Linked DNA regions of Homo sapiens: region 2 is reported to be linked to region 1. Evidence: microRNA targets listed by miRTarBase, many of them from high-throughput screens and not tested one by one. Region 1 holds a microRNA gene; the other region holds the end of a gene's coding sequence.

What was found. Region 1 holds the annotated microRNA hsa-miR-145-5p (GUCCAGUUUUCCCAGGAAUCCCU, at 1,382-1,404, opposite strand). A microRNA usually pairs through its seed, bases 2 to 8, with sites in the 3' UTR of a target mRNA and lowers its output. Matches are read on the target gene's strand: a 7mer-m8 pairs with bases 2 to 8, a 7mer-A1 pairs with bases 2 to 7 and ends in A, and an 8mer does both.
Region 2: miRTarBase lists MIXL1 as a target of hsa-miR-145-5p. The part of its 3' UTR that is shown has no 7-base or 8-base seed match.

Annotation. Positions count from the first base shown.
Region 1 is chr5:149,427,745-149,432,064 of GRCh38, reverse strand. MIR145 (microRNA 145) reads right to left here and starts at 1,419; the gene lies at 1,332-1,419. CARMN (cardiac mesoderm enhancer-associated non-coding RNA) reads right to left here. Exons shown (of 5, transcript NR_105060.1): 4 at 3,026-3,182. MIR143 (microRNA 143) reads right to left here and starts at 3,147; the gene lies at 3,042-3,147. RefSeq lists an enhancer at 785-1,079.
Region 2 is chr1:226,225,362-226,229,361 of GRCh38, forward strand. MIXL1 (Mix paired-like homeobox) reads left to right here. Exons shown (of 2, transcript NM_031944.3): 2 at 146-1,699. The coding sequence ends at 451. Among named protein-coding and RNA genes, the nearest start is that of MIXL1, 3.7 kb to the left of the region's middle.

The DNA.
Region 1 (4,320 bases):
CACCATGCCCAGCTAATTTTTTGTATTTTTAGTAGAGACGGGGTTTTGCCATGTTGGGCAGGCCGGTCTTGAACTCCTGACCTCGTGATCCACCCGCCTGGGCCTCCCAAAGTGTTGGGATTACAGGTGTGAGCCACCGCGCCCGGCCGGAAAGTTCTGATTTTGCACCTGGATTACATTAGGTCTTCTGTCATTCAGTTAGTTAGCATTCTCTATAGGCAGTCAGAGAGGCTGACTTTTAAAATTATTTAGGTATTTTTTAGAGACAGGGTCTCCCTATCTTGCTCAGGCTGGAGTGCATTGGCTATTCACAGGCACAATCATAGCTCTCTGCAGCCAGGAACTCCCAAGCTCAAGTGGTCCTCCCCCGTCGGCCTCCTCAGTAGCTGGGACTGTAGGCACTCACCACTGTGCCTGACTTTTTATTTTTGTAGATTTTGCTTTTGGCTAAGAAATTGCCATAGGCCATTGGACTTGAAATCAGCGCTGGCCCTGCCTTTTGCTGTCTGGGCGACCTTGGGCTGGCCACTTTACCTCTCTGAGCCTCACTGATCCCACAGATCTACGTAAGGAGGGCTTTGAGGATGAACCAGCCTGTGGAAGTAAATGAGAGGAAGTGATGGGGGCATTGCTGGTGGTGCAACAATGGAGAGGGTTTCAGTAGTCACTGGCTCAAAAGTGAGGGGGCAAAAGGAACCTCAGTGTGTGTGTGTGTGTGTGTGTGTGTGTGTGTGTGTCCAACGTCTTGTAGCAAGGTTAGCAATCACCATGTGTAGGGGAAGAGCCATAGTGTTCCTAGGGTGGGTAGAGATGCCACAAGAGGGCGTTCTGAGTTTTCATCTTCTCTACCTTGAAAAATTTTCCATTTGTTCTCTGGCTGCATTCCAAATCGAACGAAGACTTAAGGTTTTTAGTTTACCTAACTGATTGAATACACTTTTAAAATGAATTCATGTGTGTTTACTAGTTTATCAGTCATGTGGATGCAATACCGCAGCCCCTGTCGCAAGGCGCGTTGGGAAGTGGGTTGAGGGTGTGGTGGAGACAAGAAACGCATGCCTGATGGTGTCCTGGTTCAACCGCTGCTCAGCCGGGTGGCCTTGGACAAATTTCCCAAGAGTACGGCAGTGCTGAAGTTCCCACATCCAGCCTCACAGGGATGTTATGAAATAGACACGATGGAAAGAAAAGCAACGCAAAGGTTTGGAACATGGTTCATAAGCCCTCTTACCTCCAGGGACAGCCTTCTTCTTGAACCCTCATCCTGTGAGCCAGCCGAGGCCCCATTGGGGGGCAACTGTGGGGTGGGAAGGAGGCAAATCCAGCTGTGAAACCATGACCTCAAGAACAGTATTTCCAGGAATCCCCATCTTAGCATCTAAGGGATTCCTGGGAAAACTGGACCGTGAGGACAAGGTGGGAGCGAGTGGCCTTCAGCGCCAAGGCCGCCGTGTCCCTAAGGACCAGCTGGAGTTCTCTTCTGCATCCAGCCCCATCTGTAGCAGCCAGGGTGGGGTGCCACACGTCGCCGGATGTGGCTTATTGCTCTGGGGGGGAGTAGTGACCGGAACTTCAATTGCCCTGAAAAGTACCGGAAACCCTCTGGCGCCCCCACCCCCAGGACTGCCCTCTGCTGTCTGCACGGCTCATGTGTATTCCCCAGTCTCCTGCCAGAGGGGTGGATTTAAACCAACCATTCAGTTCCTAGCCTGGGTTTGGCAACTTCCTCTCTGATAACCTCCAGTAAGTCACTTAACCCCTGAGCCTTGGCCTTCTTTAATTATAAAATGCATGAGTCCACGACCTACTGGAGAGGTGAGATGAATAAGATTGGGGGAAGGGGGTAGGAGGAAGGAAGCCTGTAGTATTAATGGCAAGTGTCCGGGTCTGTCTTTGCTAAAAGTGACCTGAGATGTAAAGACAAGATGGGAGCAGAATTTAGAATGTTCTCCTCCTGCTCCTCGGTCCCAGGTTCCATAATCACATGCAATGGGTAAAAACATGGATTTGAAGGCAGATTAGGGTACAATCTCAGCTCAGCACAATCAATATGTGACTTTAGGTGAGCTGCTTAAATAAGCCTCAGTTTTTCTCATCTGTAAAATGGGGCTATAACACCACCCACTTCCCAAGCTTTTGGGGAGGTTAAATGAGACTGTGCTTGGCTCCATGGCTCTCCTCTGCTGCTCATTGTGCTTCTGAAGCCTCTGGGAGAAGTCAGACATTTGTGACGTGCCTGGACTGGTTTCGGCAATACCCCGGAGCCAAGGTTAGAAGTACAGAGTGAAGACCCTGACTCAAAGGCCAGAATTTTTATCTTCAGGGCTGAAAGGGTTTTTAGGAATTGTTTGATCCACAAATGATGAATGAGTTTCAGCTGTGAATCAGTACTAGTGGCTTTCCAGGGCTCATTGTTGAGGATTCTGAAGCTGCATCTGAGCACTTCAAGAATGGATGCCTGGCGGGGCGTGGAGGCTCATGCCTGTAATCCCAGCACTTTGGGAGGCCGAGGCGGGCAGATCACCTGAAGTCAGGAGTTTGAGACCAGCCTGGCCAACATAGTGAAACCCCATCTCTACTAAAAATACAAAAATTAGCCAGGTGTGGTGGCGCACACCTGTAATCTCAGCTACTTGGGAGGCTGAGGCACGAGAATTGCTTGACCCTGGGAGGAGGAGGTTGCAGTGAGCTGAGATTATGCCACTGCACTCCAGCCTGGGTGATGGAGTGAGACTGTGTCTCAAAAAAAAAAGAATATATGCCTTTACTGATTAGCTGTGTCTGCCATGGGCTCAGAAAGAGAAAGCAGAGGCAGGGTGCTGGGGAAATGCTAACGCCTCATGCTAAGATGGACACACTGGGGTACACAGAGGAGTCAGGACATGCCCAGACTCGTGAAGCAGATCGTGGCACCAGGGGAACTTGTGTAGAGGAACTTCCCCAGCATCACAAGTGGCTGATAGTATGGAGTCTGGAAACACTCTGTCCTTCCTGTTATGGCCCCCCACAACCCCCCAGCACTTACCACTTCCAGGCTGATGGCTGCAGAACAACTTCTCTCTTCCTGAGCTACAGTGCTTCATCTCAGACTCCCAACTGACCAGAGATGCAGCACTGCACCTCAGGCTGGGAGACAGGGCGCTGCGCTGCTCCGCTCTGGTGGCCTGTGGCGGGACTCCAACCTGGCCAGGAGAAGGGGTGTTAGAGGGGACCTGGGCTCCACCTCTCCAGCTCTGGCCGGGAGGCTGTTGTAATTCCTCACAACTGTGTTTCCTGTCTGTGGCCTGCCATTTGAGCACCCAGGACCAAACCTTGACCTTTTTTCTCTTCTTTTCTTTGTTTCTTTCCTTTTCTTGTCAAGAACAGCTTAATTTAGAAGGAGGACATTTAGTGAGTACAATTAACAGGTTTTTAATATATTCACAAAGTTGTGCAAACAATGGCACAATATATTTTAGGTTATTTCACCATCCAAAAAAGAAGCTCCTTATCCTTAGACAACCCCTAGTCCTGGGCAGACCAGTTTCTATCTCTATAGATCTGTCTATATATTTTCTGGATATTTCAATACATGGAATTATTTAATATGTTGACCTACCTTTTGATGCCATGCCCCACCTTTATGCTTGGCGCATTCCAGCCTAACAGCATCATTCATGGTACTTAACATTTTATATCATCGAGCAATCAATTGTCTCCAACCTATCTTTCTTCTGCCACTCCTCCTCTCTTCCCAGCCATCTTCCCATAATGATTTTTCAAGATGCAAATATGCTCATATCTTACTCAAGTTTAATATCCCAAAAGGGCTCCCCATTGCCCTCAGGCTGAATTCTGAAGCCCTTCCCAAAGCCTGCGAGGGTCTGCCGCATCTAGCCCCAGTGACCTCTTCCTCTTGGGCTACAGCTCATAGATGTCCTTCCATTCTCCTAGGGAGCCCTGTGCCCACCCACTTCGGGCTCCCAGGGACTGTGCTGCTCCCCGTCACTCTCCCTGCCCATCTCTTCCTCCTGTGCTAGGTCTCTAATCAAGTGGCCACTCTGGGAAACCCTCCTTGACTTTTTTTTTTTTTTGAGACAGAGTCTCCCTCTGTCGCCCAGGCTGGAGTGCAGTGACACGATCTCGGCTCACTGCAAACTCCACCTTCCGGGTTAAAGCAATTCTCATGCCCCAGCCTCCCAAGTAGCTGGGACTACAGGCGTGCACCACCATGCCTGGCTAATTTTTGTATTTTTAGTAGAGACAGGGTTTCACCACGTTGCCCAGGCTGGTCTAGAACTCCTGACCTCAGGTGATCCACCCGCCTTGGTCTCCCAAAGT
Region 2 (4,000 bases), not on the chromosome of region 1:
GTCAACCCAAGTGCTTTCTGAAGACAAGGCTCTGGAGAGGAAGCCAGGGGATGTTAAACTGGAACTTACCAGTATGAACTGTGAACATAATGTTAGCATAAAAAACTCCAACCAAAAGCAGCTTTTATTTTCTCCCCTCTTCCAGGTATGGTTCCAGAACAGGCGTGCCAAGTCTCGGCGTCAGAGTGGGAAATCCTTCCAACCTTTGGCTAGGCCGGAGATTATCCTCAACCACTGTGCTCCTGGAACTGAAACGAAATGTCTGAAGCCCCAGCTGCCTCTTGAGGTAGATGTGAACTGCCTGCCCGAACCAAACGGGGTTGGAGGGGGCATCTCTGACTCTAGCTCCCAAGGTCAGAATTTTGAAACCTGTTCCCCTCTCTCTGAAGACATTGGTTCAAAGCTGGACTCATGGGAGGAACACATCTTTTCTGCCTTTGGTAACTTTTGAGGATTCTGGGAGAATTCGGGATAAGCTCTGAGGAGCCATGACTGACAGCCTGGGAGAGACACATCAGCATACTGTCCTTTCTGACTTCCATGCTAAGGACATGTCCTTGTTAACCTTGATGATGGTTTTGACAGCACCTCTCACATTTGAAGGTACCCCGCCACTTTGTCAATGACGTTTTAAGCCCACACTCCCACCCCAGAGTTCCCGCATTCGTTTTTACCTGTGTTCTCTCCAAGCCTGCACATTCCATTGGTCTGCATCCCTATGCCTTCTTGCCAGGCCTGTTTTTAGTTTTTGGACTGGTTGTTCAGAACTCATTATTTTCTTCACAAGAATGCCTCAGCTTGACTCAGTTTCCCCTTGTGTTTGACAGCTGCCATTTTCTCCTGGTCCCTCCAAGGCTTATAATCTTAAAGTCACTCTACCCCGTCTCTTCAACCCTCATCCTAGGTTTATTACTTTTTAAAATTGGGCCTGTCATCTTCACGTTCAATCATAGCTCCAATGACTCTGCATGCAGATTATTTCGACAGCCCCCTTGCCTCTAGCTTCTCAACTACTTAAAAAAAATTACCCTCTGTGGGCCAGGTGCAGTGGCTCACTCCTGCAATCTCAGCACTTTGGGAGGCCGAGTGGGTGGATCACCTGAAGTCAGGAGTTCAAGACCAGCCTGGCCAATATGGCGAAACCCCATCTCTGCTAAAAATATAAAACTTAGCTGGGCACGGTGACGGGAGCCTGTAGTCCCAGCTACTCAGGAGGCTGAGGCAGGAGAATCACTTGAGCCTGGGAGGTGGAGGTTGCAGTGATCTAAGATCGTGCCACTGCACTTCAGCCTGGGAGACAGAGGGAGGCTCTCAAAAAAAAAAAAAAAAAAAAAAAAAATTACTCTATGGTTCTGTGGTAGCCTCCAGTTGCTACCAAATTATAAAAAGCTTTCAGTTACCCTCCCAGATAACTGATATCATCCTTAGCCTGCAGGACAGCTATGCAAATCTGAAGGTCAACTATCCACAATATATGCTTTGGTCTTAAAGTCACTCCTTTCAGTTTTGAACCAAATTCATACCTTTTGCTTTCAAAACACTCGAGGACTCCCCACCTGCCTTCTGAAGTCTGAAATTTTCTCTAAGTAATCCTGATTTTGCACCTGTTACTTCGATCACTCCATTACCCTTAGCACTTGTTATTGTACTTCCTGTGCAAGTTTTGTGGATTATTAAATGTCTTTCACAAATGTTCCAATGTAATTTCTATTTAAATGAATTCTTCTAGATAACTCCTAGTACAGTGCTTCACTCCACAATTGCTCAGTACATACTATGTGGCCATGAAAGACATTTCTAAAAGTTTCTGCAAATGTAGTTTTTAGCCAGTAATCAATATTATATCAGCAGGCCACTGAGCTGAGAAATTTAATTGGGTTAAAAACATTTTTGCTTGAATGTTTAATAATATTTTGTGAGTATTTTGGTTTTGGGAAATTTCTCTTTGCAATTTATAATTCTAAATGTATGTAAATAACCGTTTCTAAGTCAGTCTAAGATCAATTAAAATATTTTGATATTTTGAGAGTTTTCAAACTCCTTTAGAGTCAAAGGAAATGGTCTGTGTATGAGGCAACCACAGGTGAAGTTTCTTTGTAAACTGTGCTTTAAAGTAGGCTCATGGGATGCCATAGCTAGCTAGGGCCAGGACATCATGTCTTGATGGTTACTAGAAGAGCATGAGATTATACATGCCAGATGCCCTAATTTTCAGAGATGTTATTCAAGTGGTTTGTACTTTTCTTTTTTTGAGATGGAGTTTTGCTCTGTCACCCAGGCTGGAGTGTAGTGGCATGATCTTGGCTCACTGCAACCTCTGCCTCCCGGGTTCAAGCGATTCTCCTGCCTCAGCCTCCCGAGTAGCTGGGATTACAGGCGCCCGTCACCACGCCCAGCTAATTTTGTATTTTTTAAAGCAACCAAGAGCTGGGCAACAGAGCAAGACTGTGTCAAAAAACACCACAACATACAAAAATTAGCTGGGCATGGTGGCACATGCCTGTAATCCCAGCTACTCAGGAGGCAGAGGCAGGAGAACTGCTTGAACCTGGGAGGTGGAGGTTGCAGTGAGCCAAGATCGTGCCACTGCACTCCAGCCTGGGCAACAGAGCAAGAATCCATCTCAAAAAACAAAAACAACAAAAACCAACCAAGAGTTTCCAAGCACTTAGGAGTTGAGGAAAAAAGCAAGCAAGCAAGCAACCAACCAGGAGGTTGGGCACAGTAGCTCATGCCTGTAATTCCAGCAGTTTGGGAGGCTGAAGTGGGAGGTTTGCCTGACCCCAGGAGTTTGAGACCAGTCTGGACAACATAGCAAGACCCTGTCTCTTGAAAAAAAAAAAAAAAAAAGCCAGGCACGGTGGCTCACGCTGTAATCCCAGGACTTTGGGAGGCTAAGGCAGGCAGATCACTTGAGGTCAGGAGTTCAAGACCAGCCTGGCCAACATGGTGAAACCCTCTCTCTACTAAAAATACAAAAATTAGCTGGGCATGGTGGCAGGTGTCTGTAGTCCCAGCTACTCAGGAGACTGAGGCAGGAGAATTGCTTGAACTCGGGAGGCGGAGGTTGCACTGAGCCGAGACTGGGCCACTGCACTCCAGCCTGGGTGACAGTGAGACTCTGTCTCAAAAAAAAAAAAAAAAAAAAAAAGTCAGGCATGGTGGCATGTGCCTGTGGTCCCAGCTAATCGTGAGGCTGATGTGGGAGGACTGCTTGAGTTCAGGAGTTCAAGGCTGCAGTGACCTATGAGCGTGCCACTGCACTCAGCCTGAGTGACAGAGTGAGACCTTGTCCCTGCCATTCCCCCAGCAAAAAGCAGCCAAGAGAACATAGTTGAGGCCTTAGCAGCAAAGTGTACTTATCGATTCTTTGAAAACTGTTTGAAACCAAAAATGAGCTGATAAACATTAGCTATTAACACTGTGCTCAGGGCCCATCCTGGAGGTGCTCAGGAGGTCTCACAATCACAGAGCTTTACATTTAAACTTGTGACTTACATTTAAACTTGTGACATGGCCAAATGAGATACTGCAAATACATCCACAAAACTGAAAGACATATAACACTTTAAATTATGGTCCACTAAGAATCGCACTTACGAAAAAATCTGGTAATTATTTTATTATTGCTTTTATATTGTCTCATGTTGTTTCCCCAGTGAACAACTGTAAAAATCTATAAATATGTAAATCCTGTTGTCACATTTTAAATTGTGGGATCCTCTAAGAAGTAGCCTGCAGCTCTCTCAAACTCTAAGAGGCCCTAACTGCTAAATGTGTTACAGACATTATCTATTTTATCCTCACACCTACCATGTAAGACAGGGACTAATCTTCCTACTTTAAAGATCAAGAAACTGAATCTAAGTAGTGTCTCACAATTATACAGCTTATAAATGGCATGGCCAGGACTCAAACTCAGCCCACCCATTAGTCTACCACCATACAGTGCCTCCTATATTGCAGTGGTCTTGTTAGTCAGGACTAATGATAAAGTAAT